Regions from separate parts of the Homo sapiens genome. Here all the other regions are reported to be linked to region 4. Evidence: microRNA targets listed by miRTarBase, many of them from high-throughput screens and not tested one by one. Region 4 holds a microRNA gene; each other region holds the end of a gene's coding sequence.

Evidence for each region. The annotated mature microRNA hsa-let-7d-5p reads AGAGGUAGUAGGUUGCAUAGUU and lies in region 4 at 2,177-2,198, opposite strand. An mRNA with a match to its seed (bases 2 to 7 or 8) in the 3' UTR can be bound and repressed. Matches are read on the target gene's strand: a 7mer-m8 pairs with bases 2 to 8, a 7mer-A1 pairs with bases 2 to 7 and ends in A, and an 8mer does both.
Region 1: the mRNA of HOMER1 is a reported target of hsa-let-7d-5p. The part of its 3' UTR that is shown has no 7-base or 8-base seed match.
Region 2: the mRNA of HAND1 is a reported target of hsa-let-7d-5p. Seed matches in the 3' UTR shown: 8mer at 1,781-1,788.
Region 3: the mRNA of KLHDC8B is a reported target of hsa-let-7d-5p. Seed matches in the 3' UTR shown: 8mer at 1,849-1,856.
Region 5: the mRNA of ZNF200 is a reported target of hsa-let-7d-5p. Seed matches in the 3' UTR shown: 7mer-A1 at 886-892 and 8mer at 1,671-1,678.
Region 6: the mRNA of MAGEA12 is a reported target of hsa-let-7d-5p. Seed matches in the 3' UTR shown: 7mer-A1 at 1,082-1,088.
Region 7: miRTarBase lists LRRC42 as a target of hsa-let-7d-5p. The part of its 3' UTR that is shown has no 7-base or 8-base seed match.

The regions. Positions count from the first base shown.
Region 1 is chr5:79,372,292-79,376,850 of GRCh38, forward strand. It overlaps HOMER1 (homer scaffold protein 1), which reads right to left. Exons shown (of 9, transcript NM_004272.5): 9 at 345-3,906. The coding sequence ends at 3,718. Among named protein-coding and RNA genes, the nearest start is that of JMY, 140 kb to the left of the region's middle.
Region 2 is chr5:154,472,284-154,476,842 of GRCh38, reverse strand. It overlaps HAND1 (heart and neural crest derivatives expressed 1), which reads left to right. Exons shown (of 2, transcript NM_004821.3): 2 at 933-1,871. The coding sequence ends at 1,037. Among named protein-coding and RNA genes, the nearest start is that of HAND1, 3.7 kb to the left of the region's middle. RefSeq lists enhancers at 1-796, 2,467-3,438, 3,439-4,410 and a silencer at 951-1,138.
Region 3 is chr3:49,174,570-49,179,030 of GRCh38, forward strand. KLHDC8B (kelch domain containing 8B) reads left to right here. Exons shown (of 6, transcript NM_173546.3): 4 at 173-397; 5 at 493-594; 6 at 1,036-1,917. The coding sequence ends at 1,232. CIMIP7 (ciliary microtubule inner protein 7) reads right to left here. Exons shown (of 4, transcript NM_001080528.3): 3 at 3,913-3,969; 4 at 3,065-3,483. The coding sequence ends at 3,067. Among named protein-coding and RNA genes, the nearest start is that of KLHDC8B, 5.2 kb to the left of the region's middle.
Region 4 is chr9:94,176,512-94,181,038 of GRCh38, reverse strand. MIRLET7D (microRNA let-7d) reads right to left here and starts at 2,205; the gene lies at 2,119-2,205. It overlaps MIRLET7A1HG (miRlet-7a-1/let-7f-1/let-7d cluster host gene), which reads right to left. Exons shown (of 5, transcript NR_170278.1): 3 at 1,118-1,219. It overlaps LINC02603 (long intergenic non-protein coding RNA 2603), which reads left to right. Exons shown (of 3, transcript NR_160773.1): 3 at 3,308-4,470. RefSeq lists an enhancer at 1,745-1,794.
Region 5 is chr16:3,220,022-3,224,580 of GRCh38, reverse strand. It overlaps ZNF200 (zinc finger protein 200), which reads left to right. Exons shown (of 5, transcript NM_198088.3): 5 at 1-2,256. The coding sequence ends at 689. Among named protein-coding and RNA genes, the nearest start is that of ZNF200, 13 kb to the left of the region's middle.
Region 6 is chrX:152,736,491-152,741,049 of GRCh38, forward strand. It overlaps MAGEA12 (MAGE family member A12), which reads left to right. Exons shown (of 3, transcript NM_001166387.4): 3 at 1-1,179. The coding sequence ends at 616. It also overlaps the pseudogene CSAG4. Among named protein-coding and RNA genes, the nearest start is that of MAGEA12, 5.0 kb to the left of the region's middle.
Region 7 is chr1:53,967,665-53,971,664 of GRCh38, reverse strand. It overlaps LRRC42 (leucine rich repeat containing 42), which reads right to left. Exons shown (of 9, transcript NM_001256409.2): 9 at 3,497-4,000. The coding sequence ends at 3,726. Among named protein-coding and RNA genes, the nearest start is that of LRRC42, 23 kb to the right of the region's middle.

The DNA of each region.
Region 1 (4,559 bases), not on the chromosome of region 4:
TGCTTGTATTTGCGTGACATCTATATATCAGTTTCTCATGAAGAAAAACTATCATAAAAATTTTAAGGTAAAATTTAACACGAATATTAGGAAAAAACACACTTTCGCAATTTGGAGTAAGGTGAATGACACATCCTTTCCTTTTCTAGTAATTTCTAAATTTAGAAATTGAGAAATTTTCTAACAGTGTCAATCTCAACTACTTCTTACCTGAAAGGTTTCTTAAGATTTTGTATAAATTAATTTACTTCATGCTATACATTTAGGAGGCAAAAATTCAATGAAAATCATTTCATGACTTCAAGCACAGAATTTCAGGATGTCAAAATCATTTGATATCAAATAAATGCAATGGTTAAAACAACAATAAGAATCCACTGCCATCAAACAAACTTTCCCCGACCTGCCTCCCATTCCAGTACTGACAAAATCAGGACCACAAGGAGATAAATGACCGAAGTGTATATGCTTCAGTTAAATAAAAACATGGGAGACTGTAGCCCACATGTTAAAGAATACATTTAATTTTAACAGGGCAAATAAACTAGTTTTTAAAGGTAGTGGTGGTGTTGGCTTAATTTTGAGTGTTCCTTTTATTTCCACCTGAAAAAAAAAGTGAGCTTTTCCTCTAACTGCTTCCCAACAGTTCAATGACAGCAGAACATCAAATCTATGATGGTGCTGGAGATCTTCTATAGAGACAAGGAGAGATGCAACTTCGTGAGCATGTTTTAGTCTGCAGAAAGAAAGTGGAAAAGAGAAAGAGAGAGAGAGGAGAACAAAAACTAATTTTCCAGGCAGGGGAATACTTATAAAACCTTTTATGTCAAAGTTAGGATTTCACAACATAACACACTAATGCAAAATCCAGTAGCACCTGAAAGATTTAAGTAAATGCTGTCATCATTTAAATGCTTTTAAATATCTGTAAAAGACTGGAGGAAAAAAAGATAAAGTACATTCTCCAGAGAACAAATGTATTTCAAAATAAAAACTGTATTTTTGCTTTTCTTTTTTTTTTTCAATTTTTGTTTTTGTACAAGATTCAATAGTTATCACATATTAACTTATACACAATGGGATCAACCTCCTCCTCCATGTCGCTTCAAGTCCACATGTTCAGGCTATAGTCCCCAACATTATTTTCTGAGAAATATATTACCACAGTTTGATTTAAATATAGATACAGTATATAATACTTGTCTCTGGGAAAAATCAAATTTTAATATGCAAATGTTTATATAATACAGAAATGGAAAAAACTACAGTAGGCACACAACCTAATTATGACTTGTGGATGATGATTTCTACATACTCTCCTACTGTAAATGAATAGTTAAAAGTCTTAAGAAGATTTTATTTATATGTGCACTTGTGTCCACCTTATCCCATATACTGTACATGTCTATTGACAATCTGGGAATTTAAAGGTGCAGCCCTCAAGAGATTGTTAAATCACTAAAAAAGGAAACAATTAGGCTCTATTGGACAAGAAAAACACTCACAAAATTTCCAATTTTAAATTTCATTATCAGTAGGAAAGTATTAAAAATAATTTTCTGTATATACATATGGGTATATGTATATATTGAATCACACATATGTCCCACATTATCAATACAATTCAAATGGAGACATTTTGGTGAGTTTTTTCATTAAATGATCACTATGTCAAAATTTAAAAATATTTTATTACATCATTAAAATAATTCACTTGCCATTTCAACAGCTTACACTGTTTTTTAAATTTTTTTAACTCTTCATACTAAACTCCCTGATCCCTAGTGTTAAATCTCCTATTTAAATTAAAACTTGGTGCTCTTTGTTACTCAGAAACTGATGGATAAAAACACATTTACTTCAAAATTCCATCAATCAAATACATTTTGTTACCTGATTTATCAGAGAAATATCTCAGCTCTGAGCATGTGTATCTAAATTATTCTCCCTATAATATATAGGTGAGGAAAATATCCTAAAATAGATGGAGGTAACGTACATGATGTTACAGCACATATAATACATGATTGTTATAAATTTTTCAGAGACACCTGAAAACTCACTTAAGAAACTAACTTCAGAAACAAACCATTTATTTTTCACTCTAATGTAAATTAATATGTATGTATTTACGTACATACACATACATAAAAAACAAAATTGTCTAGTATTGAGTAGCTGTTTATGAGTGAAAAAATGGTTACAAATTGGTTAATTAGCTTAATTTTGTACTTAACAATTCGATCATTTTGGGGTACAAACAAGAAGTCAGTGCATTTATAGACTCCATAGAGTCAGTTACTCAAGCATACACTTTAAAAAAGAACCCTCCTCAACATCACAGGCATTGTACAGCAAGAATATATGTACTCTGATGCAATTCCTACTTTATAAGCAGACTAGACAGCACTTGGCTTACTTTTAAAATAGCTTCGTAAAAGAAATATATCATATAAAGAAATGCATGTTTGCTAAAAGTCTTTTAAAATTACATCAAAACAACATTAAAACCTGTTCACTGAGAAGAGCCTATTGAATTTAATTCCTGTTTTGAAATACCTAGTTAACAATTCAGAATATTGCCTTGTGAGGTTTGAATCAAGATGTGATTGATGTGTAGAGCCAGATAGAGTACATGACTCCATCTCTATCTGCCACGATCACAATTTAGATAGAGTCCTCTGATCAGCTGTTTGATGTAAATGGACCCCCTTTAAAATAGCTATACACCTTAAAATTATCTATAATAAACAGTTCCCCAATAACCATTATTATTCGTAAATTGAAATGCATTGATCATTCAGAAAAGATTTCTTGCAAAATATATAAATAAATGTAACTGCATATTCTGTAAATATACTTAACATTGCTAGACCAGCCTGTCAATGACGGGCTGCTGTATTTCAGTACTGTGTGTCAAATTTATTAGAAACTTAAAAAGAAAAATTTCTGAGGGACTCAGCTGCCTTCGTTAGTTGGCTTTAAAATGTGTAATAAAATGGGAGACAATATCTTCTCATAAATACATGGAATCAATATGGAAAAGTAAACTATACAACAGACAAGATTAGAGAACACCAGAGTGTACCAGAGTAGTCACCAGAGTGAAATATCTTCCAGCACAAAAAAGGGAAGAACTCTATACACCCAGTTATAGTATATTTCAATTAAAGATACAGCTCTCTCTCACTCCTGGCAAGAATTAATTGGTAATGGCACTGCTTCTCAGCAGTGCAAAAATATCCTGAGAAATTATTCAGATTACAACAAAAGACAGGCTTTCATCACTAAGTTTTTGCACAAAACACAGCTCTAGATATCGTAAATAAATTAATTTAAAAAGCAGATAATCTTCACTGTGTTGAACACAAAAAGGGGATGTGACCTAGACATTGTTAATTCTCCCATTGGCTAATATCAGGAAAAAAGATTGCATTAAGTGTCTATTTATAACTTTCTAGTTAACTATGGCCAATAATATACATGGAGGTAATTTGTAGTTCAAGTTTTTCATCTTTTTTCCCCAACTAGCTACAAGCTGGATTCTAAAATTTACAGTGAAATATACAATTCCAATTTCAAAAGATCCTCCTCCTGGAGGAGTGATATTCAATTTTTTTTTTTTTTTTTTTGTGCAATCTTGATGCAGAGCCTAAACAGTCCTATGAAGAGAGACAGTGTATCTTTTAATTAATTGGCACTGAAATTTCACTTTCCTTAGCTGCATTCTAGTAGCTTGGCCAAGTTATCTCGTAATTCTGTTAGTTCAAATATCTTTCCATCCAGAATTTCTAAGAGTGTCTTCAGGTTATTGCGAAAAGCTTCTTGTTCATTCTGACTTTTCTCCAGACGTTGCTCTAAGTCAGACAGTTGTCCCTCCAGGTCTTTGTTCCGAATTTCTACTTCCTTCAGAAACAAAAGTGTAACATGTATATATGTCAATTCATCACTTAGAAAACAATACAACTCTCTGTTATTACCAATATTGCGGTAATCAATGCAGTTTGACTGTCAGGATGAGCTGCAGAATCTTAATTTAGCACAATTTAAGGAGATTTTAGACTTGGCCATCCCAGAGAGCAATACGATTTTAATGACTGGCTTGGTTATCAATCTATCTAACCACTCAACGAAAATCTACTGACTCATTACTTTGTGCCAGGCAACACTCTAGGTACTTCAAATACCAAGACAGGCTTGAAGACCTATTTATGGATCACTTAGATCTCATTTTTATTGCTGTCCACCTATTTCTCCTAATGCATAATTATTAGCAATCACAGGTGAAAGCAGGCAGAGAAAGAAAAAGAAATTAACTTTTTCTGTTTACTGGCAACTCTAGAGAAAGATTTAGACAAGAAAGTAACTCTCTAAAATGTGATTTTAGGATCCTCTGAATATGTTATTCTTTGCTTTGCCTCAATATCAAATAAATGTATATGTAGAGAGTATCACTCAATTGCTAGAAACTGTAGTGAAGATACATAATAACTGTACATATTAGAGAATTATAAGTTAACAGTTCCAATACATTGCAAACCAAGGGAAAAAAATGACAA
Region 2 (4,559 bases), not on the chromosome of region 4:
TTCTTTTAGCTTTGGAGAGCGCAGTCTCGTCTTGGCCTTCTTGATCCTCTCCGGTTAGGGTGACACTTCCTGGCACTCGGTCTGGCTGTCCGGGGCTGGGGGCTTCTGAGCGCTGGGTTTTCAGGCTGGCCAATCAGTTTCTCTAGGTTGGGGGGCTTAAGGCCGTAGCGGAGTGGAGCCAGCTGAAGCGCCCCACCTGGTTTATCCAACCTGCGGGGGCCTGTGGTAAACTGACGAAAGCTCATCCAGGGACGAGGGAAAGATAAATAGGCATCGAGTCTCTAAACGGCTGCCCCGGACTGGGGATGGTGCAGGCCGGCTTCTTTCGAGGTGCGGCGCCTCGAAAGAAGTTGTTATTGGGCGGATCCCGGCCCCCACGCGTCGCCGCCTCCTTCAAGTAGCACCGCTTGGTTCCTGCTGAAAGAGCGGGAAGGAGGACGCTAGGCCAGCTCGACTCCCCGCTCTTTTACCTCCGTATCTGAGGCTCCCAGCTCCGGCTTAGGGGGCCCCAAGCCTGCATCCAAGCCCTGATGTTTAAACCAGGTTGGGAGGCTGGCGGAAGTGTGTGGGGTGCAGCGAGAGCGGGAGAACCGTGGATTTCCACCCCTCCCTTCCAATATCCTGGGATCTCCCTTAGGTGTCCTAAAGCCAAATCAACGCGCGTCAGTTTCACCAGACGCAGAACATTTTCCTTACCAAACCTCCCGAAGCTGCCCAGCCCATCCCGGGTCCCAGGAACTCCGCGCATAAAGGCAAATTTACGAGCCTGTTTGCCTATTTCGCAAACAGAAATCCGTCACTTATTTAAAGACTCCCAGTTACTGCTCCCGACACCTTCCCCTCCTCCTCATCTTACCCCATGCCGGGCGATCGGAGCAGAAAAATTAAAACCTGTCTCTCCCGCCTCTTTTCTTCTGTGTGTCCTTTGGCAGCAGCAGCACGAAGGTTTTCCTCCTGCCCTGGGCCCAGTCGAGAAGAGGATTAAAGGACGCACCGGCTGGCCGCAGCAAGTCTGGGCGCTGGAGTTAAACCAGTGAGCCGAGGCCCGCGCCGAGGACCTGGCCAGGCCAGCCACTCCTGAAGCCCCGGGAGGAGAGGAAGGCAGCGGCGAACGCCAGGCTCTGGGCTCCGGCGACTGGTGCTACGCATCCCGCGGAGCTTCTGCTGAGCGCCGGCAGGTCGTCGGCTGCAACCACACACTTGGATCGCACGTGCAATGTCCTTTGATTTTTTTTAATACATTAAGAGAAAGAGAAATATATATATATCCACCCCCAGCCCAACCGAGGGCGGCCCTTGGCGGCAACATGCAAGAAGGAGGGACTGTCGAACCCAAGGGCTCAAAGACGCACTCTTCCACCCTTTTGGAGCGAATTTAGAACCTCAGCCCTATCTCCATTTCCCTATCTGGCTCTTTCTCTCTTGTCCCTCCATATGATCCGCCCCGACGCCGTCTTCTCTAATTAAAATGCAATAAGGAATCAATTCTTTTCTGCCTGAGAAAGAGAACCAGACGCAGGAAGATGAAAGGCTGCCCTTTGTTCTTCGAATCGTGGTGGTTTTATTTTATTTTTCTTTTTGTCGCTGCACTTCCTGTTTAGTTCCAAGGGAAACACTTTCTCTCTTTCTCTGTCTCTCTCTTTTCTTCCTTCTTTTCCTTCCTTTTTGTTTCTATCTAAATAAAAGCTTTCCCTGTGTTGGAAAGTTTTTATGTATTTAAACTACCTACCATGCCTGTTGTGCTCAGGTGTTTGTTCATCCTGCCATCCCCAACCCTTTTCTACCTCAAGTCTGTGTGACCACTCACAGCCCCCCTCCCTTCGCCAAAGCAGTGTCTATGCTCTTGATTAATAAAACATTTTCTGAAATCATCTGAAGCCTGTGTCATGTCTCAACCGGGGTCCCTCACCGACTCCCATGGCTTCTGCTAGGTGGAAAGCCTCTGTTCCTGCTCCTCTTCTTTTGATAAACACGAAACCAAACTTGAAATCAAGGGAAGCCGGCAGATAAAGAATGTATTTCAAGAACAAGAGCAAAGTTCTCTTTAGACTAGAACGGGAGGTGGGGGTAACTTATGGGAACGGGGAAGAACAAAAACGGAAACGAATTAGTCTCAGAGGGCCTGGGCTCGGGTTTTTGTGCGTTGAGTATTCGTGCTTGTCTGGAGGTTAGTATGCCCACTGGTGTCTGCAAAGAGTGGTTTGGAGTGTTTATTGGGAGGGAAGGGGGCCTAGCACACAGGTGAATCCTATCCCTGGGGCAGGGTAGCTCAGGAGAGGGGGTGTTGGTGGGGAATATGTTCATGTATGTGAAATTCTCAACATATAGATGTACATGTGACAGTGCAGCAACTCATACGGAGCCTGAGGCTGTGCAGGGGCCAACAAGGGTCTGCTTAGTACAGCTCCAAGCACACAGTAAGGACTTGACAAGTCACAGCAGCTATTATTATTTTATACCTGAGTAAAATAAGCTTGTGAGTGCTTATATGTTAAATTGAGGTATTTAGGTTTCTCTTTAGCAACGAAGCACTCGACAGAAGGTTGTGAGAGCATATGGATTTGTGCAAAGGGATGGGGTGTATGTGTGTATGCGTGCTCATTCGGGCACTTGTGCAGGAGAGCCAGTCTTTGTGTTCTCTCATGCGCACCCATGACTAGGTGTGGTGGGTATAAATTCGGTGCATTTGCCAAGGATCTTGGATGCGTATTGGGCTAAACTGGGGCGGGCAAACGCAGTGGTTTATACTTCCAGGAATAATAATGTACGAATACTTTGGTTGCGTGCAACTGTGTGCTAGGCACTGCGCTAAGCACTTCTGTGTCTCCCAACAGCTCCCATGGTTGCCCCACGGAGCGCACGCTCTGCAGCGCCTGAGGGTCTGCGGCGCTCACTGCGAAGGAGGAGGGGAGACCCGTGAGGCTGTCTTGGAACTTTCGCTCTGCGCACCTGGAGCCTGAGCGCTCGGCTTGGGAACAAGAAAGGAGACCTCAGGCAGCTCCGGGGCAGGGCCTCGTGGGGCACCAGGCGTGCCCCAGGCGCCTTGTCCCAGCGTCGGGGTGAATATGGGACCCCATTAGTCTTGGCTGTAAACACCGTAGCAGGGGCCGAGAGGCCACGCGGGCCTTTCCGGACGCGAAGGAGTTAATAAAAGGTGTTTTATGGGCGCTAGGAAACAGTGGGGGAGGTGTGAGCTTCTCTCTCTACTCTCGCCCCCCTACTTTTTTCTTTTTTCCCTCTCGCCACCCGCCGCCAGATCAAACAGGCCCGCGATTTAACTAGGGCAACACTTGGCGGTAATGAGCCTGTCCGACGCACCCCTTCCTCGGCCTCAGTACCCGGCCCGAGGCCCCAGGGCCCTTGGGGAGGAGCAGAGAGAAAAATCAAAGTTTCTTTCTTGTTGTTTTGTTTTTCTTTTCTTTACCTTCTTTCTTTCCGTTTCTTTCTGGGAGTCCGTTTAGAAATTCCGGCGCGCATGGAGAAACAGACTCAGGGAGGGAGGTGATCTAAGCCCCACAGCACGGAGGGAAGCTTATCTAGATTCGAACCCAGGACTCCAACTTCGCTCACACACAAACCTCTGGCTATACACAGGTCCCAGCTCCCAGGACTATTTTTAGCACCGTGAAGTATCCTAGGCACGGGAAGAATGCGCACCCTGGTCTAGCTTTCTTATAGCCGGGGAAAGAAGAGGGGGTGCTGAGGGAGACCCGCCAGCGGCCGCCAAAGCCAAGTCTGGCATAACCAGGCCTCTTCAGAAAACCCAATCCTGCTGGCCCCAAACCCTCTTTGGGAAGAGAGCCTTGGAGCCCTAAACTCGGTCTCAGAAACGTGCAGTCCCTGAACCCGGGAGCCGAGACGGAGCCGGCGCCCATTGAGAGGGTCACTGGATAGTCCCCCACTCTCCCCACGCCTGACTCCAGCGGCCTCCCACGCCCACGCCACATCCCCAGCTCCCACCGCACAGCTGGAAAAGCCGAGCACAGAGAACGGCTCGGAGCTGCCCCAGGTTTCACAAACCATTCTGTGCTGAGGGTCTGCAGACTAGGGGTCCAGCCCTTCTCGCTGCCACCCTGGCTCTCCAGGCTCCCACCCCTCCTTAGCCCTCCCTTCTTTGAAAACATCTTTAGAGTCTAACGTTTAGTTTCTTCTTCTCTGCCCAGGTTTCAACGAGGTTTGTCAGACACCTCAAATCAGCTGTGGCAGAAGCAGGGTCATTATTTATTATTTTTGAATTAAATACATCTTTTTTAAAAAATGGGAAAAATGGAATGGTTACCAACTTAAAAGTAAATTCCAGGAGTTTACTGCAAGGAAATATTGATGTTACAAAACGTTAACTATAGGACTATTCTATTAAAGAGTGAAACACGAGAAAGAACCTGATGTCCTATAATTACAGAACTGGCTCAATAAAGCCATCAGTACAAGTGGGTTACTATTCAGCCATTAGAAAAAATGTGGGAATTGACATGGAAATTGTTCACGATATATTAAGTGAGAAAACCTCCTCCCATATTACACCAAACACTGTCCATTGTGACCCTTTTCATGTAAAA
Region 3 (4,461 bases), not on the chromosome of region 4:
TGGTTGGAAAACCAAACCCCAGTACCTGAGGGACTGTAGGGTGGATGATTCATGTGCAAGTGTGCACACAGCAGGATGTGGGAGGCTGAGGCAGGCAGATTAGCAACCTAGTGAGCAAGGAGCCCACCAAGCCTCCTGGGCTCCTTCCCAGGTACCCCAATTCCATTGACAGGGGGCCGCCAGGGCAAGCTCCCGGTGACTGCTTTTGAAGCCTTTGATCTGGAGGCCCGTACATGGACCCGGCATCCAAGCCTACCCAGCCGTCGGGCCTTTGCTGGCTGCGCCATGGCTGAAGGCAGCGTCTTTAGCCTGGGTGGCCTGCAGCAGCCTGGGCCCCACAACTTCTACTCTCGCCCACACTTTGTCAACACTGTGGAGATGTTTGACCTGGAGCATGGTGAGCAGTGGCTGTTCTGGGCTGTCCTCCCGCTCTCTGTGGGATGGAGGGGCATAGTGTGTACATGACTAGATCTGACCTCCCCTCTCCTGCAGGGTCCTGGACCAAATTGCCCCGCAGCCTGCGCATGAGGGATAAGAGGGCAGACTTTGTGGTTGGGTCCCTTGGGGGCCACATTGTGGCCATTGGGGGCCTTGGTAAGTCTCTATGGGGCTGGGGAGAGGAGGGAGTCCCAAGACAGGAAAGACTAGCCCCCAGCATGTGTGTCACCTTCTGCCCATCTCCAGGCACTCCAGGGGTCAGGGCTTTGTGAGCTCTTTTCCCTATCTATGAAGTAGGCAGGATGTGGTCTGCCTGGCCCAGCACTCAGGGTGTTCCTCAGTGACTGGGGGCTCTGTCAAGCACCAGCAAGGGTCTACGAGACAGCAGCAGGACAAATGACCACTGTATGCACAGTCAAGAGAACATATAGAAACATAAATGAATGAACAAATGATGAACATAGGCAATGAGGAGCAAGGCCCTGATAGCTCATCCTGGGGTGATAACTACTGGGCTATTCTCTGGGCTTAGGGAGCAGAAGGGCCTGGAGTCCCTACGGCCTGTGCCTCTCACAGCCTTCTCTCTCCTTCTTGCAGGAAACCAGCCATGTCCTTTGGGCTCTGTGGAGAGCTTTAGCCTTGCACGGCGGCGCTGGGAGGCATTGCCTGCCATGCCCACTGCCCGCTGCTCCTGCTCTAGTCTGCAGGCTGGGCCCCGGCTGTTTGTTATTGGGGGTGTGGCCCAGGGCCCCAGTCAAGCCGTGGAGGCACTGTGTCTGCGTGATGGGGTCTGAAGGCTTGGTGGGAGCTGTCCACTGGAGCAGCTCATTGCCAGAGGCAGCTATTTCTATGGCTCCTTTTGCTGCTGAGGACACTCACTGTGGCTCTGTGGGATGAGAGAGGCATGGGGGTGAGCACTTGAAACACTGCCTTGGGGCCTTGGGTTAGGGGAGCCTTTGTCTTTAGTGCAGGACACACATATGCTTACACCTACCTTTATCACCATTCGTTCATGAATCATGCCTAGCTCCATCCTTGCCCTGGGACCTACTAGGCCTTCCATCCAACTGGGAAATGGGGAGAAGCAAAGCTGGCCTCATGCTCTTCAGGGTCAGTTCCTATCTGGAGTTGACCAGGCCTACCCCAGTTGCCATTCCTGAAAAATCTCAGCTGCCAGGCTGCCTTTAGGGTCCCTGCAGACCCAGGAGAGTTGAGAGGGTGGGGGACACAGAGAGAATAGAGAGGATGTGGGAACTGCCAGAGGGCCGGAGCGCAGGAGTTCAAGTGGAGGAATGCTGGCTTTGAGCCCTCTACACTGCTGGTTGTATGACCTTGGACAAGTCACTTCACCTCTCTGTGCCTCAGCATCCTCATCTATAAATGGGGATCTCTGAAACCTTCCTACCCTACCTACCTCACAGGGCTGTTGTGAGGACCCAGGGAGTTTGGATGTGGAAGTAAAAGTGCTGCTAAAACCTAGTGTGTGGACCCTGGTGTGAACTCCCTTGTTTCCACTGCCCCTGCCTTCCTTTGGGGGTCTCAATGCCCCTAGGGATGAGGGTCCAGAAGGAGCCTCTTGGATCTGGTCGGTGTTCCCAAAGTGATTTGGTGTTTCTGTTCCATCTGAGCCTCAGCTTATTCTTTGGCAACATGTGATGACAGCGCCTCCTTACTGTCCTGGGGATTAGAGAGCACTAGGGCAGTAAGGAAGGGCTGTCACATGTCACCAAAGGATGGCAGGATAAGATGACCAGAGAAGTGCTCAGAAAACAACAGAATACCACAAGGTTAGGAAGACCTCCAGATCCAAGTTACAGAGTGTCTCCTTAGGGTCTCTGCTCACCCCCACAGGGAGGGGTGGTGCAGTGGGTTCTGTGGCCCAGGGCAGTCTCTTTCTGTCTCAGCTGTGGGGCAGCCGTCTCTTGGACAGGACTGTGTGGCCACCCAACAAACCCCTCAAAGGCAGCTGCCTCCTGAGAAAGCTGCCAACTCTTCCTTCTTCCAGCCTTTGTCGCCCACTAGTACTGGTCTCTGGGGTCTGCTTTCCCCATAGCTAAACTGAGTACTTGACCTGCTTCCCCAGTGATGCCTTTCATTCTAGGGTGAAGCACCTAGAAAGTCAGTGGCCCACAGGATATTTGCACATTGTCTGGCACGCTGGCAGAGGAAACCAACACAGAGATGTCTCTGGGGGAATGGGCTGTTTCCCAGAGGAGAAAGGTTGTGGGGAAGTTAGTCACTCCGCTGCCTTCATAAGGAGCCCTCCCTCAGTGTCACCCCCTTCACCCTGCCACCTGCTCTGTCCTGACTTCAACTTAGGCTGGGGACTGCCCTCTAATCTTCCTCTCTACAGCTGGGTTTACTGCAAGAACAGAGTAGTACTTGGGGCCCTGGAACCCACCTGATGTGGCTATAGCAATCCTCCTGGACTCTTAGCCTCCTGCAGGCCTTACCCTTTCTCACTTAGTGGCAGGGATCCCAGAGCAGCACCTCCCATGCCCAGCACAGAAACACACCATGGGCACAAGTGCCATGGGAGACAGGCACAGGACCTGGCAGCCTACTACTACCTTTCAGCCTCTTGGGCTACATCCCATTGTGGGCTGCAAGCACAGACAGGCTGCTGTGTCAGCTGTCCTTGTTTAATGCTCTGGACCAGTTTAGACACTCAGAGACCCCAGCATGAAGGTAGTGCTGCAGCAGCTTGGGTCTTGGGATCCCTGGGAGGTCAGGCAGTACGTCAGTGACCGGCGCCTGGGGCCCTACCTTGTAGCTGCCATAGTGGCCACCCTGGGATGGGCAGCAGAAGTTCTGCTGGTAGGTGGTCCTGGTATGGGAAGGCTGGACCTGCACAAAGTGGATGAGGTGCTGGGGGAGGCCACTGAGTCCTGGGCCTGGCCTGAAATCAGCCTGGTAAGAAGATTCCAGGGGCCCCTGCTGGCGCAACTCTATCTCACAGGGTGCCCAGCGCAGGAAGGTGTGCCGCTGCCACAGGCGCTCCAGGTCCTTCCGCCTTCCGATTCCCTGCAGCAGGCAATAGGGACCCTCCTCAACGGTATGGGCCCTTGGCCCACATTCCTGGCACCAAGCACCTTCTTGGGCCCCTCCTAACCCCAAGTCTGCTTGGTGATACCTGTCCTATGCCTGGCTGTCTTGGCCTGTACCCTGGCCTCCTTGGCCTGCCTCCCCAGTGATGTCTTTCATTCTAAGGTGAAGCACCCAGAAAGTTAGTGGCCCACAGGATACTTGCATATTGTCTGGCAAGTTGGCAGAGGAAACCAACATAGAGATGTCTCTGTTTGGGGGAATAGGCTGTTTCCCAGAGGAGAAAGTTTGTGGGGGAAGACAGCCACTCCTCTGCCTTCATAAGGAGCCCTCCCTCAGTGTCATCCCCTCCACCCTACCATCTGCTCTGTCCAGACTTCAGCTTAGGCTGGGGGACTGCCTGCCATTCTTCCTGTCTTCGGCACTCACTTTGTCAAAGGAAGTACGGTTGTCGTGCTTGGAGAAGAAGTGTCGCTGCGCCGGCTCCTTGAAAGACAGTGAGAAAGAAGGTGAATGGGGAAAATGATGCTTATTTACCCACCCTTACCTGGATCACTGCCTCAGGGTCCTTAATGGAGGGAAGTCACCAGGAGCCACTGCCCCTAAGCTGCTAAACTGCCAACAGACAGAGGGCAGAGACTAATTAAAGCAACACTTCAGTCCTGGGATATCTCAACCTGGGACTTGCCCTGAAGCAGAAGCCCGTGGAACCCTTATTGAGGAGGGTCCTCAATAAGGAGGCATCTGCTAGAACATCCTCCCATCAGGGGAGCAGTGGCCAAGTTTCAAGTTGGGCCTTAACTCTTGATTGCCCAGGACTCTAGTCCTCTCCTCCCCTGCATCCACACTTACTCCCCCATCAACATACCCAGCCTCTTGGCTCTAAATGCCATCTGAAAACTGGAATTTCTATCTCCAGCTCAAACTTTCTCCTGAACTTTGGGTTCAGTAGACAACTGCCTACTCCACATCTCCATG
Region 4 (4,527 bases):
AATCTCTGGTCACTGCAACCTCCACCTCCCTGGTTCAAGCGGTTCTCCTTACATCAGCCTCACAAGTAGCCCACCACCATGCCAGCTACTTTTTTTTAGTAAGATGGGGTTTCATCATGTTGGCCAGGCTGGTCTCGAACTCTTGACCTCAGGGGATCTGCCTGCCTTGGCCTCCCAAAGTGCTGTGATTACAGGCGTGAACCACTAGGCCAGGCAGAAATACTCATTTTGAAATTACCCCAATCCTATCACACCTCATTTCCTTGCTCTTTTCCTACGCATCTTCGCCTAAATCAGTGCACATGAAATTGATGCAATTTTGCCACAACTTAAATCTTCAACTTTAAAGAACTGTACCATGTAAGGTACCTTAGAAAACATACCCAACCATCTCAATTCATAAAGGAAATTTAAAGCCCCAAGTATGAGAACATCCCTAGATCACGATTCTTCCTTCCACTGGAGCAAGGGGCTAGGCAGCAGAGGGGCAGGATGGGAAACTCCACTGAATTTCCTTTCAACTTTCTCACCCCTGGAGACTTTTAAATGTATTACTGCTCATGATCAGGCAAGGGTGGTTCACACCTGTAATCCCAGCACTCTGGAAGGCCACGGCCGGTGGATCACTTGAGGCCAGGAGTTCAAGACCAGCCTGGCCAACATAGTGAAACCCTGTCTCTAATAAAAATACAAAAAATTACCTAAATCCTGTCTACTCTACCCAGGAGGTGGAGGTTGCAGCAGTGAGCTGAGATCACACCACTGCACTCTAGCCTGGGAAACAGTGAGATTTTGTCTCAAAAAATAAAATAAAATAAAAAAAAATACTACTGTTCATAGTAGTTGGAAAAAGATGGAATGCTAATGCACAAATTCGTCTCATTCCTAGAATGATAAATGCTCAAACTAGACTAGTGAAATGAGACATAAGAGTTTTTACAAGGTAGTGTCTGCCTGAGCAAACTCAAATAATTACTCAAGTAAAGAAAGGAGGCTGTCCTGGCCAGCACTTTGGGAGGTAAAAGCCAGAGGATAATCAGGAGTTCAAGACCAGTCTGGGCAATATGGTGAAACCGTCTCTACAAAAATAAAATTAGCCAGGCATGGTTGTATGCACCTGTAGTCCCAGTTACTAGGAAGCTTGAGTCCGGGAGGTCAAGGCTGCAGTGAGCTGTGATCATTTCACTACACTCCAGCATGGGTGACGGAATGAGACCATCTCAAAAACAAAACAAAAAGGAGGGTGATCCTGAGCAGTTAATTGTCTGTACAAAGTCACACAAGTGTTTACAAAAATGGAAGAGCTGGAAATTGCTCGTGTTAGCTTTATTAAAACATCTGTAAATGACCATCCAATCACCAAATTATTGCTAATGAAAAATGAAACTAAGAACAAATCATAATAATTACAAATGAAAAATGCATCTACTACTGCAAGGATGGGGATAAGGGTTAAGGATGACTTAAAAAGCACTAGTTTTGAAGTATGCAGTGTTTTTATTGAAAAGATGTATAACTTTTAACAAAATATGTAACACTATTACCCAGTCAAGACAACCACTTTCATTTTATTGACCTTCCAGTTCTTGTACATATTAAACAGACAAATCACTGTTACATACCATAATGAGCAGCAGCTCAATTACCCATTCCCAAACCATGCAATTCCACCCCAGCCGCCCCAAATTTTAAATCCAGAAGACAAACCTAGAAAAGCAGCAAGATAAATATTTACAAACATTGTAGAAAAACAGCAGTATTTCAAGTTTTGTTAAATTCTTTCCTTCAGACATAATGTAGACATAGAGGAGGAACAGCTGAGAGTCTCTGCATCACAGAAAGAGAAACCTGAGCAAAAACAAAACCATGCTTTCTAAACTTTCCAGTGACACCAAAAGGGAGACACTAGCAACTAAGTGTACTTCAGAAGTCTCAAATTCTCATTAGTTGACTTTCAGTTATCAATGTCAGCACCATGCTGCAGTTTATAATCACTAACGCAAACACTGCTCTCTTTGATATTCTTGCAATGTTTTCATTTGAAAAAACCTACAGAAAGAACTCTGCTTACACCAAAGCAAAGTAGCAAGGAAACAGGTTATCGGTGAATAATAAGGCCCTAAGAAAGGCAGCAGGTCGTATAGTTACCTCCTTGTGGGCAAAATCCCTGCCCTAAAACTATGCAACCTACTACCTCTTCCTAGGAACCCATTTTTTTTTTCTTGCTGGTCTTCTACTTGGCAGATGCACTTCAAATTAACCTGTTAAATTAGGTCATGTTCTTTGAGTTTTGTTTCTAATTCAAACTAATCAGAATTCTTTAACTAATGCTTTTGAAAAGTTATCTGGCCATATGACCTTGGTAAAAAGCCACAAATACATTTGCTTAAAATCCAACCTCAAGTCACAAACGAACAAGAAAGTAATGACATCAGAGGATGTAAGCCAGTAGTCTAATACTCAGCCCACCACGTATTACTGGAGTCGCTGACTTTTAACATTTAATTATCAATTTTTTTTTTGGACAGTCTCGCTCTGTCACCCAGGCTGGAGTACAGTGGTGTGATCTCGGCTCACTGCAACCTCTGCCTCCTGGGTTTAAGTGATTCTCCTGCCTCAGCCCCCAGAGTAGCTGGGATTACAGGCGCCCACCACCACGCCCAGCTACTTTTTTGTATTTTTAGTAGAAACAGGTTTTCACCATTTAGGCAGGCTGGTCTCAAACTCCTGACTCAGGTGATCCGCCCACCTTGGCCTCCCCAAAGTGCTGGGATTACCGGCATGAGCCACCACACCCGGCCTAATTTTTGTATCTTTATTAGAGACTGTGTTTCACCAGGCTGGTCAGGATGGTCTTTAACTCCTGACCTCAGGTGCTCCACCCGCCTCAGCCTCCCGAAGTGCTGGGATTAGAGGTGTGAGCCATGGTGCCCAACCCAGTTACCAACATTTAAATATCAAATTTCATAAAATCTCCAGTCTCTCCTGTTAACTGGAAAAGTAGGTGACAATGTATATAAACCCTGCTTGCTACCTATCAACCAGAGCAAATTAATTTACTATATTTGCCAGTTACAACTAGCCCCTCCTGGGCCTCTGATGGTATTTCAGTTTTTGACCCCTGAATTAAAGCAAACAGAAACAAATTCTGATCATGAATTTTATCATCATTAAAAACAAGCTTTCAGAGATAGTCATTCTCTCCATAAAGGCATTTTTAAAGTTTTATTTCGATTTACTTACTCTGCTTAGCTAATAACAATGTCCTTATGTAATTAATAAAATATATAAATTAATTTTTCTCCAGGGCTTAATTATTAGATAAGGATACGTTTCCAACTGAAGGTGGCAACGTTATGCTGGAAGAACATGTCAGGAAGACCACAAAATTTCATGACTGTACTTGCTACACTTTCAGCAGAAGAGTTATACATATTTTCAATTCAACAAAGATTAAGCCAAAAAGAATTCTTAGAACATTCCCACTCTTCTTTGGCACATCAAAAGGCAACAAATGTCATTTTCTCCCATGTTTTTATGTGCAGTTTAGAACAAAGACCAATTATCTATGCAGCTGTCCACAGTGGATAAAACAAAAAGCATACATTTGGTCCAGAGTTAAGTCACCTGGGTTGGGCCCATCCAAGGAAGTTTGATGTTTCTACTCTCATGAAAAGTACCAATGGCACTGCACAGTGATTATCTTAGATATTAAGGATAAACACAAATTTCTCCTTAAATTTCCATTTATTGGAAATGATTGGAGGGAGGGAACTTCTCCCTCACCTCCACACTGCCTCTTTTCCAACTCTTCTTCCAACACAAAATAGTTTAAACAGCAAGCACTTAGAGAGCTTTTAGCCTTGCTTGTTGATTACAAGGCCCAAGTTAGTGTATGGTTTGCCCATCGGAGGAAAGCTAAAACATGGGCCTTCATGGGTATTAAAATTGAAGAAACCTTTTCCAGCATTTTTTCTATTTTCTTTAAAGTAACAACCTATGGACTTCCCCATCTGACATTTTCGAGTGATCCCACTGTGTGAATGAAGGACTACTTCAGGGTTTGAGGGCAAAGCTGAAATCTTAGCAACTTACCAGTGAGCAAAGGTAGAACCCAGAGCCCATCTCTCCTTTTCCAGGCTGCTGAGTAAAGTCTGGCTCAATCAACCTATCAATGAAGCAGTGCTTACAACATTCTCCAAGACCACCCAAAACCCAAACTGGAAATGAATCATGACTAATCTGACTCATTTTGGCTCACACAGTGCCCTTCCAATTTGTATTTACCTTTACCACCCAGGACCTGACCTTGGACATGTGTACCAGGATGTAAGGCAATAAACCTATTCACAATTCCAAAAGGGCCTGGTCCTCTATGAAGATTTCCTGAAGGCTACTTACTTTCTCTACTCATTAAAATTTTTGCTTAACTTCAAATTTCTGAAATATACCATATGTGAAAAATTTAAATGTTAATCTGTGCCTACTGTACTACTTGAACAGAGAAAATTAACTGATAAACTGTAA
Region 5 (4,559 bases), not on the chromosome of region 4:
CTGAGAGGGAACCTGTAGAAAATGAAGATTATAGAGAAAAGTCTTCAGATGATGATGAAATGGATTCTTCCTTGGTCTCTCAGCAGCCTCCCGATAACCAGGAAAAGGAACGACTAAATACATCCATTCCACAAAAAAGGAAAATGAGAAATCTGTTAGTTACCATTGAGAATGATACTCCTCTAGAGGAACTCTCAAAATATGTAGACATCAGTATTATTGCCCTTACTCGAAATCGGAGGACAAGGAGATGGTACACTTGTCCACTGTGTGGGAAACAGTTTAATGAAAGTTCTTACCTCATTTCCCACCAGAGGACCCACACTGGAGAAAAACCCTATGACTGTAATCACTGTGGGAAAAGCTTCAATCATAAAACAAACCTCAATAAACATGAGCGAATTCATACAGGAGAGAAACCTTATTCCTGTTCTCAGTGTGGAAAAAACTTCCGTCAGAATTCTCATCGGAGTCGTCATGAAGGAATCCATATAAGGGAGAAGATATTTAAGTGTCCAGAATGTGGGAAAACCTTCCCAAAGAATGAGGAGTTTGTGCTTCATCTGCAGAGTCATGAGGCTGAGAGACCATATGGTTGCAAAAAATGTGGGAGAAGATTTGGTCGGCTGTCAAACTGTACCCGGCATGAGAAAACCCACTCAGCCTGTAAGACCCGAAAGCAGAAGTAATACTGGGAACCCTTTCTGGGTCTGATGGTGCTGCCTCAACCTGAGAGCTTTCATAAGTAGTTCTGAATTCCCAAGCTGCCTAAAAAGGTATAAATGTGTAAAAATCTCATTATTGCCAAAATTGGATAAATGCCCATCTTAGCTAAAACCTCAAATTGCTAGAAAATTCACAGGGAAGAAAACATTTCAAGGGCTATACCTCAGCATCTAGGCTTTTTGGACTAAGGAGCTTTCCTTTTTGAAGTTATATGATAATGTACAGGTCACAGATCCCCTTTCCCAACACTTTGAAGATGAATCTGGAGTCTGCTTACTTGGAAGGCAAAGAGTGACTTGTGTCTATTGAAAGTATATCCGTTTTCCCCCCACATGGGGATTCATACTTGAGAAATAGTGCAAAGATGCTTATCTGGAACTGTGTTCTGGTGAAAGAACCAAATTACTGGCTTGTTAGCCAACAGCTTCTGATAGCAATTCATATAACCCTCTAAGAATACCTGTTTAAGTCTTGAGTGTTGAAAGGAATTGTTTACTTTGGAATATAGGAAAACAGTTGAATGTCAGACTCTCATTTGTATGTGATCTAAATTTGCAATCAATTTCAATAATATTTACAATTTGTGATAAAACTGACTTTTACAGATTCCTTTTCACAACATAATTTAGGTGTCTACTGTTCTTATTGTATTTTGTTCTGCTGTTGATCTCTCCAGCAGCCGTCTCATGCTTCTCCCTTGCTAAAAGAAGTTTGGATTACTCAGGCAGGGCCATCCAGCCCCACCACTAGAAAAGCTCTTCAGAATCTTGTCCCTCTGTTGAGCCCAGATCTCATGTGCTACGAAGGAAACCCCAAGACCCAGAGAGGAAGGGTCAACCTGGAGGCAGGAAAAAGTTGGCTTGGATCCATGTCTCATCAATAACCTTACCATATGCTTAGGTCCCCTCTATGCTGTCATCAGACCTTTGGCAATGGGGTGGTCACTACCTCACAAGGCAAAGTGTTGTATGATTAGAAATTACGTCTCCAGTGGTTAGCTCACATTGCCTCTCAAGAGACAGGTTTCCAGGTGTCTTCATTGTAGTGGGTATTAATTGTCTTCAGCCTCTTGATATCCATACCTTCCTGTCCTCTGCCTAGAAGCAAGGCCAGCGGTGCCTTTACGGACTGATCGTGTGGTGCGATTTAGGGATTCTTCAGTTTTGCTTGCTTTAGGTTTCCAAAAGTTATACATTGGTGTTTTGATTGGAATAAAGAAATCCTATAAGCTATTTGGGAAAAATTATAGTGTATGTTTCCCATCCAGAAACATGCCTTTCTATTTATTAGAGTATTATATTCCTGTGAAAATTTTTCTAATTTTCTTCACTTGTTTTACACAATTTTGTTATTGTAGTTTTTTCCATTATATTTTTATAGTTGATTATTGCTTTTACATGGGAAAGTTATTTTTAATTATATATTTGTATAGTCATCTCACTGTTGTTAATTTTCAATAGTTTGTTGGTTTAGTTCTGTTAACTTTTGGTAAAATGACACCATCTACAAAGAATAGTTTTTGTTTCTTGCCTTCTGCCTATTGGTCTTTTTTGTTTTGTTTGTTGTTATTAACATGTAATTCTGAGGTTTCTTGTTTTGGCACAAAGCATTCTGAAAGAAGGACATTCTATGATACAGTTCAGTCCTGAATCGTAATTTAAAAACAACAAATCCTCCACAACAGAGAAAGGCCACAGAAAAACTGTCTTTACCAACATTGTATTTCAGGCCAACAGGAAGTACCCTGTAAAGCCAGCAAAGCGAACAAAACAGGCTGCCCACAACGTTATTCGCTTATTTGAAAGTCTGACCAGTGCACTAGGACTGGGATCCTGAACTGTGTTTCCAGAGTCGGCAGGCTGTTACCATGTGCAGTGGACCTGCCTGTGCACCCAGAAAAGTAGCTGCCAGGAAGTGAGTGGTGAGAGAGAGTCTCCACTCACTCTTTGGTACCCCTGCCCAGAGTCGGGTATTTTATCAGTCCTCATGCAGCCATGGCACAGTACCCGAGACAGTTAATTTTTTCTTTGAGACTGGCTCTGTTGATAAGGCTGGAGTGGGGTGATCTTGGCTCGCTGCAACCTCCCGCCTGCTAGGCTCAAGCGATCTTCCTGCCTCAACCTCTTGAGTAGCTTTTCGTTTAAGTGTAGGTGGGTGAAGCCACCACAACCCACACCATCTCATGTGTAGGGGACCTGCCCATGCATCCAGAAAAGTAGCTGCCAGGAAGTGAGTGGTGAGAGAGAGTCTCCACTCTCTCACTCTTTGGCAGCCCTGCCCAGAGTCGGGGGTTACATCAGTTCTCATGAAGCCATGGCACGGTACCTGAGACACTTTTTTCTTTAGTTGAGACTGGCTCTGTTGCTAAGGCTGGAGTGGGACGATCTTGGCTCACTGCAACCTCCACCTCCTAGGCTCAAACAATCCTCCTGCCTCAGCTTCCTGAGTAGCTTTTTGTTTTTTTAAGTGTAGGTGGGTGAAGCCACCACAACCCACACCATCTCCTGGACTGGGGAGGTGCCCACGGTCAGGGTTGCCGTCAATCAGCACCCAGTGTCCCAGAGGGCAGGACATGGGCCGCAGGGTTTCCTTCCGCAATAGTGAGGCTGGGTGGGAATGAGAGGAGCGCCCCGACCAGGACCAGGGGCCGCCCCCAAACACGAGAGCCCCTGGGAAGTTGTTGGATGAGTAAGTTCTGTTACCTAAGGAGCCTGATCACCAGTTAAGTTGAAAAAGTAAACAACAGTGAACAGTTTCCCAATATAGCGGTAGAGCGAGAGTTGGAAAATGTAAGAGACCAAAGATCCAATTCCAGTAGTAACTACAGAAAATAAGCCAGGCGCAGTGGCTCACACCTGTAATCCCAGCACTTTGGGAAGCCGAATCAGGAGGATGGCTTGAGGCCAGGAGTTCAAGACCAGCCTGGGCAACATAGTGAGACCCTGTCTACGAAAAAAAAAAAAAAAAAGATTTGGTTGAGTGCAGTGGCTCAACGCCTATAATCCCAGCACTTTGGGAGGCCAAGGCAGGTGGATCACCTGAGGTCAGGAGTTCAAGGCCAGCCTGGCCAACATGGTGAAACCCCATCTCTACTAATAATACAAAAAGTAGCCAGTTGCGGTGGCAGGCATCTGTAGTCCCAGCTACTCAGGAGGCTGAGGAAGGAGGATTGCTTGAACCCGGGAAGTGGAGTTGCAGTGAGCCGAGATTATGCCACTGCACTCTAGCCTGGGCTATAGAGTGAGATACCATTTCAAAAAACAATTATTTTTAAAATTTAAAAAACATTATCAAGACGGCATGGTGGCATGTGCGTGTAGTCCCAGCTACTTTGGAAGCTGAGGTGGGAGGATTCCTTGAATCCAGGAGTTAGAGACCAGCCTGAGCAACTTACTGAGACCACATCTTTTTTTTTTTTTTTTTTTTTTTTTTTTTTAAGAAACAGGGTCTCACTCTGTTGCGCAGACTGGAGTACAGAGCTGTGATCATAGCTCACTACAGCCCTGAACTCGTAGACTCAAGAGATCCTTCCGCCTAACTCTCCCAAGTATCTGGGACTACAGGGACATGCCACCTCACCCAGCTAATTTTTTTATTTTTATTTTTCTAGAAACGCGGTCTTGCTATGTTGTCCATGATGGCCTCAAACTCCTGGGCCCAAGTGATCCCCCTGCCTTGGCCTTCCAAAGCGCTGGGCTCATCTCTTTAAAAAAAAAAATCAGAGTAAATGGGAGGTTGACTCCAGCATGACAGTGTGAGAGTGCCTGTAGTCCCAGCTACTTGGGAGGCTGAGGCAGGAGAATCTCTTGAACCCACAGTGAGGGGAGATCCAG
Region 6 (4,559 bases), not on the chromosome of region 4:
TAGGAAGATGGCTGAGTTGGTTCATTTTCTGCTCCTCAAGTATCGAGCCAGGGAGCCATTCACAAAGGCAGAAATGCTGGGGAGTGTCATCAGAAATTTCCAGGACTTCTTTCCTGTGATCTTCAGCAAAGCCTCCGAGTACTTGCAGCTGGTCTTTGGCATCGAGGTGGTGGAAGTGGTCCGCATCGGCCACTTGTACATCCTTGTCACCTGCCTGGGCCTCTCCTACGATGGCCTGCTGGGCGACAATCAGATCGTGCCCAAGACAGGCCTCCTGATAATCGTCCTGGCCATAATCGCAAAAGAGGGCGACTGTGCCCCTGAGGAGAAAATCTGGGAGGAGCTGAGTGTGTTGGAGGCATCTGATGGGAGGGAGGACAGTGTCTTTGCGCATCCCAGGAAGCTGCTCACCCAAGATTTGGTGCAGGAAAACTACCTGGAGTACCGGCAGGTCCCCGGCAGTGATCCTGCATGCTACGAGTTCCTGTGGGGTCCAAGGGCCCTCGTTGAAACCAGCTATGTGAAAGTCCTGCACCATTTGCTAAAGATCAGTGGAGGACCTCACATTTCCTACCCACCCCTGCATGAATGGGCTTTTAGAGAGGGGGAAGAGTGAGTCTGAGCACGAGTTGCAGCCAGGGCCAGTGGGAGGGGGTCTGGGCCAGTGCACCTTCCAAGGCCCCATCCATTAGTTTCCACTGCCTCGTGTGACATGAGGCCCATTCTTCACTCTTTGAAGAGAGCAGTCAGTATTGTTAGTAGTGAGTTTCTGTTCTATTGGATGACTTTGAGATTTATCTTTGTTTCCTGTTGGAATTGTTCAAATGTTCCTTTTAACGGATGGTTGAATGAACTTCAGCATCCAAGTTTATGAATGACAGTAGTCACACATAGTGCTGTTTATATAGTTTAGGAGTAAGAGTGTTGTTTTTTATTCAGATTGGGAAATCCATTCCATTTTGTGAATTGTGACAAATAACAGCAGTGGAAAAAGTATGTGCTTAGAATTGTGAAAGAATTAGCAGTAAAATACATGAGATAAAGACCTCAAGAAGTTAAAAGATACTTAATTCTTGCCTTATACCTCACTCTATTCTGTAAATTTGAAAAAAAAGCATGGATACCTGGATATCCTTGGCTTCTTTGAGAATTTAAGAGAAATTAAATCTGAATAAATAATTCTTCCTGTTCACTGGCTCATTTATTTTCCATTCACTCAGCATCTGCTCTGTGGAAGGCTCTGCGTTAGTAGTGCGGATGCTAAGGTAAGCAAGACTCACGCCTACCCGTAGGGTTGTAGAGCCTAGGACCTGCAGTCATATAATTAAGGTGGCAAGAAGTCCTGTAAGATGTAGAGGAAATATAAGAGAAGGGTGAGGGTGTGGGGTTCCAGGAGGGAGTTGTGGAGTGTAAATGCCCTGAGCTGGGGCATTTTGGACTTTGGGAACCTGCAGTTCCTTCTGAAGGAGCTGACTCTGATGAAGCTGGGTGGGTCCAGGGCCCACAGATTCTCAGTGAATGAGAGAAAAGCCTGGAATGGAAAGCAACTCTGAGTAGTTTATTTCGGATGGGGGATGAACAGAGAGGAATCTCCACCTGGGGCTGGAATAGAAGGTGTCCTGTGCTTTTGTCCCACTGCTATTGAACACAACCCAAGATCTAGGTGATGAAAATCTATCATCTGCAAGGGTTTCCTGAGCGATAAGGCTGAATTTCCCAGGAAGGGTGACCCAGAAGCCACTGGCCAGGTGCTTTTCTGCCAGGCAGGGAGAGCCAGAGCTGACTCCATTAAAAAGGCATTCTAACTAGGTTATCTCAAGTGCAATTTGACCAATTGTAGGCGTGGGCCAGATTTTGGATGGTAACAAAATGGATGAAAATAGTGGTTTGGGTGGGAAAGCAGCTGGGAGAGATGGAAGGAATTGGTCTTTGACACACATTCTAGGAGTTTTGGGTTGCACCTGGCTGGGCAAAACTCCCGCACACACAAAGTTTGAAGTGCATTCTCTAAGAGGAAATACTTAACTGAATTTTACAGGTGAAGCTTCCTTTTTGGCCTAATTATCCCATGTCCTGTTGAGCTGTATATTTTCTGATGACTCCTGGAGAACAACGACAACAACAACAAAGTCCCAGAGTGTTAATGCCTAGGCTTTAAAAATATTAGAAATAACAGCCATCGGCCATTTGTTAAACTTCTAATTTCCACCACGCCCGGAGTTTCTGTTGCTCCACATCTTCACTGGCAATTGGTCTTGGTTTTGTTTTGCTTTTTTATGGGTTTTAGACATTCTAATAGGTGTGTAGTAGTATCTCACTTTAGTACACAATTATCTAATGCCAAAGGACACTCAGTATTTTATTATGCTTATTTGCCCTGTGTGTATCTTCTTTTGTGTAGATTGTGTTCAGATCTTTGACTATTTTCATTTTTTCTATCATTGAGCTTTAAGAATTCGTATATATTGTAGAGACAAGTTCTTTATCACATATGTGTACCACAGATTTTTTCTGCTAGACTGTGGCTTGTTTTCATTCTCTTAACATTGTCCTTTGAAGAGCATAAAATTTTTATTTTAATAAAATCAACTTGGCAAATTTTTCTTTCCTTGATCATGCTTTTGGTGTTGAATTTAAAAACTCATCACCAAACTCAAAGTTATGTGGATTTTCTCTTACGTTTTCTTTTAGAGGTTGTATAGTTCTTGTATTTTTCATCAGGTCTATGATGTATTGAGTTAATTTTCGTGCAATATGTAAGGATATGTCTAGGTTATTATAATTTGTGTATAGGTGTCTAATTGTTCAGGCACCTTTTGTTGGAAAACCTGTACTTTCACCATTATTGCCTTTGTTGTGAATCACCTGACTATGTGTGTGCAGGTCTATTTCTGAGCTCTATTCTGTTTTATTAATCTATGTGTCTATTCTTTGCTAATGCTTATGTCCTCCACCAAATTCATATTTTGAAACCCTCAGCCCCAGGGTGTCAGTATTTGGAGATGAGGCTTCTAAGGTAGTAATTAATGTTAAAAGAGGCCATAAGGGTGGGAGCTTGATCCCACAGAATTAGTGTGATTGTAAGAAGGGAGAAGAAACAGAAGAAAGTACTTTTGTGCCTGCATGACTTCTCTCTCTCTCTCTCTTTCTTTCTCTCTCTCTCTTCCTCTCTCTCTCTCTGCACATACACAGAGGAAAGGCCAAGAACTGACAAATTAATAAAGGGCCATCTACAAGCCAGGAATAAGGCCATCACCAGAAGACAACCCCGCCAGTCCTTGATCTGGGACTTCCACATTTCAAAACTGAAAAAAGATAAATTTCTGTTGTTTCAGCTACTCAGTCAATGGCATTTTGTTATGGCAGCCTAAGCTAAGACATAACCTCAGGTAACACAATTTTTTTTGTTTTGTCCTAGAAAAAAAAAGCAATGTAATTGTGACATATAAAGTCTGTGGCTCATTTTGAGTTACATTTTTGTATGGTGCAAGATATGTGCAACGGCTAGTATTATGTGTCAACTTGTCTAGGCTATACTGCTCAGCTGTGTGGTCAAACAGTAGTCTAGATGTTGCTGTGAAGGTATTTTGTAGATGTGATCAACATTTACAATCAGTTGACTTTAAGTAAAGCAGTTTAACTTCCATAATGTGGATAGGCCTCATCCAATTAGTTGAAGGTGTTAAGAGAAAAGACCAAGGTTTCCTGGAAAAGGAATTCTACCACAAGACTAACATAAAAATGCGCTGTGAGTTTCTAGCCTGCTGGCCTGCCTTCACTGTCCTGGGGGAGGCATGGAGAGACCAGGTGGACTGGAGTAGACTGTTGAGAGACACTGGTCTGGTGAAGATGTCCAGGAAACCACGAGCCTCCAGCCCATTGTCCAACAACCACCCACCAACACCAAAGAGGTGAGGAAGTGGAAAGCATCCTCTCAACCCTAGCCCAGAAGCCCTATCAAAGTGAACGGCCCACCGAAGCTCTAAATCCTACCCTGTCCTCCCCTGGCACAACCCCCACCCCACCCTGCCCCATTTCTCTATGAAGCCCCTGTTCTCACCCCTTCTCCATCCTCTTCCCCAAACCAGTGCCCTTCTTTGATCTCCTGGTTGGTTTTCCAGGTTGCCAAGACAACCTGGAAGGGAACAGGGACCCGTCAAGGAAGTTCCAGGAACAAAAGGCTCTCCCTAAAAGACCACCGCTTCAAAAAAACCTGAGGAATGGAGTGGGCCAACACTATCCAGCCACTCCGACCAGCCAAAAGAACTCAATCAAAATGAGACACAGTAGGACCACAAGGGCAAGGAGACCACCACCTTCTCCAGTCTCTCTTTGGGCAGCCAGTAATTCCCGGGCAAGGCCAGAAACCTCAAGGCTACCTGAAAAGTCTCCAGAGGTCTAACCCCAGAAAAATAGCCAACAGGGTGTAGAGTACATTTTATACCCCAAAGGGTATACCCCATGGTGACGAAAATAAAATGAACATGTTGTAAAATGATGTGTGTGTCTGTGTGTCTCAAATGGTAGGGGTAGGGAGTAAGGGGGAAGAGGTGGGAGTG
Region 7 (4,000 bases), not on the chromosome of region 4:
GTGTGCATGAGGGGGTGATCAAATTGGACTCTGGTTTGACTAACAATAATATGCCAACTTTGACAAGTAGAGCCAGCTGTTGATTGGCATTTGGAATTTGACAGAGTGCTACTGTCCACTCAAATGATTTTTTTTTTTTTTTTAAAGATGGAGTCTCGCTCTGCCGCCCAGGCTGGAATGCAGTGGCGCAATTTCGGCTCACTGCAACCTCCGCCTCCCGGGTTCAAGCAATTCTCCTGCCTCAGCCTCCTGAGCAGCTGGGATTATAGGCACACACCACCATGCCTGGCTAATTTTTGTATTTTTAGTAGAGACGGGGTTTCACCATGTTGGCCAGGCTGGTCTTGAACTCCTGACCTCAAGTGATCCGCCCGCCTTCGCCTACGAAAGTGCTGGGATTACAGGCGTGAGGCACCGTGCCCGGCCTCAAATGATATTTTAAAACTCTACTTTGTTACAGAGAAAACCAATCAGCACTGTATTCGCTTTTTCATTTTATAAATTTCAGAAATCAAGCTTTTGATATGATCCTGGGTAACAGCCCACCTTTAAAGAGGTAGTACCTTGCCTAGCTCAGAGTAGCAATTAACACATATTTTATCTAAGATCTACCTTTATTAAAATCCTGATTAAACAGAAAACCACATACTGCATGTTCTCACTTGTAAGTGGGAGCTAAACACTGAGTACACATGGATACAAAGAAAGGAACCACAGACACTGGGGCCTGTTGAGGGTGGAGGGAGAGGATCGAAAAACTACCTATTGGGTACTAACTACGCTTATTACCTGGGTGACGAGGTAATCTATACACCAGTCCCCCATGAGACGCAAGTTACCTATATGACAAATCTCCGTAAGTACCCTTGAACCTAAAAGTTAAAAAACAATAATGAATAAATAATAAATAAAATCCTCATTAAACTCCAGAGCACTTACAAATGTCAAACTAATGTTGTCAATTTCTTGAGGTATTTTCTCCCTTCCTTTTACTTGCCAGTAACTCTTGCTTTTAGCTCACCTTTTAAAGATGAATACGGTCTAGAGCAGTCCTGTCCAGTAAAAATATAATGCAATCACAAATGCAAGCCATGAATGTGATTTTAAACTTTCTAGTAGCCGTATTAGAAAAATAAAAACAGGTGAAATTATTTTAAATTACCATTTTAACATGTAACCAGTATTTCAAAATGGAGACTTTTTTTTTTTTGAGACAGAGTCTTGCTGTGTCACCAGGCTGGAGTGCAGTGGCACAATCTCAGCTCACTATGACCTCTGCCCTCCGGGTTCAAGCGATTCTCCTGCCTCAGCCTCCCAAGTAGCTGGAATTACAGGTGCATGCCACCACACCCGGCTAATTTTTTGTATTTTCAGTAGAGACGGGGTTTCACCATATTAGCCAGGATAGTCTCGATCTCCTGACCTCATGATCCGCCCGCCTTGGCCTCCCAAAGTGCTGGGATTACAGGCGCGAGCCACCACGCCTGGCTGAGACATTTTTCATTCAAACTTTTAGATACTAAGTCTTTGATATCTGATATCCAGTGTGTATTTTATAGCACATCTCAATTTGGACTAGCCACATTTCGAGTATTTAATAGCTACATGTAGCTAGGAGCTACATATTGGACAGTAAAGGTCTAGAGCTTTGCTACTCAATGTGTAGTCCACAAATTAGAGGCACTTTCAAAATATTTCTGCTCATAGACAATATACCTGATCACCCAAAAACTTACAAGATGAATGTTGTTTTCATGCCTGCTACCATAACACCTATTCTGCAGCATATGGATCTGGAGTAATTTCAACTTTCAGGTCTTATTATTAAATACATTTCACAAAGCAATAGCTGCCATAGACAGTGACTTCTCTAATGGATCTGGACAAAGTAAATAAGTAAATTAAAAACCTCTTGGAGGCCAGGTGCAGTGGCTCACGCCTGTAATACTAGCACTTTGGGAGCTGAGGTGGGCAGATCTCTTGAACCCAGGAGACCAACCTGGGCAACATGGTGAGACCCTATCCCTACAAAAGATACAAAAATCAGCCAGGTGTGACAATGGCATGTGCCTGTAGTCCCAGCTACTTGGGAGGCTGAGGTGGGAGGACCACCTGAGCCTGGAAGGTCGAGGCTGCAGTGAGCTATGATCACACCACTGCACTCCAGCCTGGGCAACAGAGCAAGACCCTGTCTCAAAAAACAAAACTAAACTTTCCCTCCTAGAAAAGACTCACCATTCTAGATGCCATTAAGAACATTTTGTGATTCATAGGAAGAGGTCAAAATATCAACATTAGGGCCGGGTGTGGTGGCTCACTCCTGTAATCCTAGCACTTTGGGAGGCTGAGGCAGGTGGATCACTTGAGGTCAGGAGTTCAAGACCAGCCTGGCCAAGATGGTGAAACCCCATCTCTACTAAAAATATAAAAATTAGCCAGGCGTGGTGGCATGCGCCTGTAATCCCAGCTACTTGGGAGGTTGAGGCAGGAGAATCACTTGAACCTAGGAGGCAGAGGTTGCAGTGAGCCGAGATCATGCCATTGTACTCCAGCCTGGGCCACAGAGTAAGATTCTGTCTCAAAAAAAAAAAAAAAAAAAAAAAAAAAAAAAAAAAATCAACATTAACAAGGGTTTGAAAGAAGTTGAATCCAACCCTCATGATTTTGAGGGGTTCAAAACTTCAGTGGAGGAAGAAACTGCAGATGTGGTAGAAATAGCAAGAAAGCTAGAAGTGGAGCCTGAAGATAGGACTGAACTGCTGCAATCTCATGATAAAACTTGAAAGGATGAGGACTTACTTCTTATGGATGAGCAAAGAAAGTAGTTTCTTGAAATGGAATCTACTCCTGGTAAAGATGTAACCATTGTTGAAATAACAAAGGACTGAGACTATTACATAGACTTAGTTGATAAAGCAGCAGCAGGGTTTGAGGGGACTGACTCCAATTTTGAAAGAAGTTCTATTGTAGGTAAAATGCTATCAAACCACATCGTGTGCTCTAGCAAAATCTTTTACAAAAGGAAGAGTCAATCAATGTGGCAAACTTCATTGTCTTATTTTAAGAAATTTCCATAGCCACTCCAACCTTCAGCAACCACCACCCTGATTAGTTAGCATCCATCCACCAACAAAGGCAAGACCCCCCAACCACCAACAAAACGAATGTAACTTGCTAAAGGCTCAGATAATTGTTAGCATTTTCTTTAGCAATAAAGTATTTTAAAATGAGGGTATATACATGTTTTTTCTTTTTGGAGATAATGCTATTGCACATCTAAGAGACTGCTATATAGTGTAAACATAACTGTTATATGCACTAGGAAATGAAAGAGTCTGGTGACTCACTTTATTGCAGTGTTTGCTTTACTGCAGTGGTCTGGAACCAAACCTGCAGTATCTCTGAGTTATGCTAAGCTGCCTTGTTAGTTCACCTGGCCTTCCATCCCAAACCGTGTTATTTCCTGTGGCTCCAGTCTATAATCCACAAGCAGAACTTAAGGACAGCAAAAATGTTTATTTGAAAAAATTACTATGTATTGAAAATATACATTAGAAATTATTACATACTTCCATAGCATTCCCCTCCCACACCACAAAAGTAGAAATATCTGCTTACTATGCTAATGCCATAGGTAAATTCAAACAAAAAGTAAATCATCCTCAGTCTCCTTTACTCAAACACTAGAGCTGGGGGCCAGAGAAAGGTCAACTTGTATCTACTAATCAATAGGAATTTAACAAGTCCCAGTCTTCCACAGCAAGACATACATATTTCTGCTTTGAAGGTTGTGAAGAGTTATTCTGTTCTGTCTCTGACTCCTCAAAAGGTCTCTTCTTGCTCTTCTTTGACTCCTGGCTTGAGATAGCTTCGTGTTTCAACACTGGCCCATGGCAATCTGGGGCTTTCTCTTTATAGAACTGGAGTTTCTCGGAAGAGTTCATGTGGGTGTCTGCCAGGGGACACTTCAGTGGGGCTTCTGCTCGAGACCGCTTCCCAT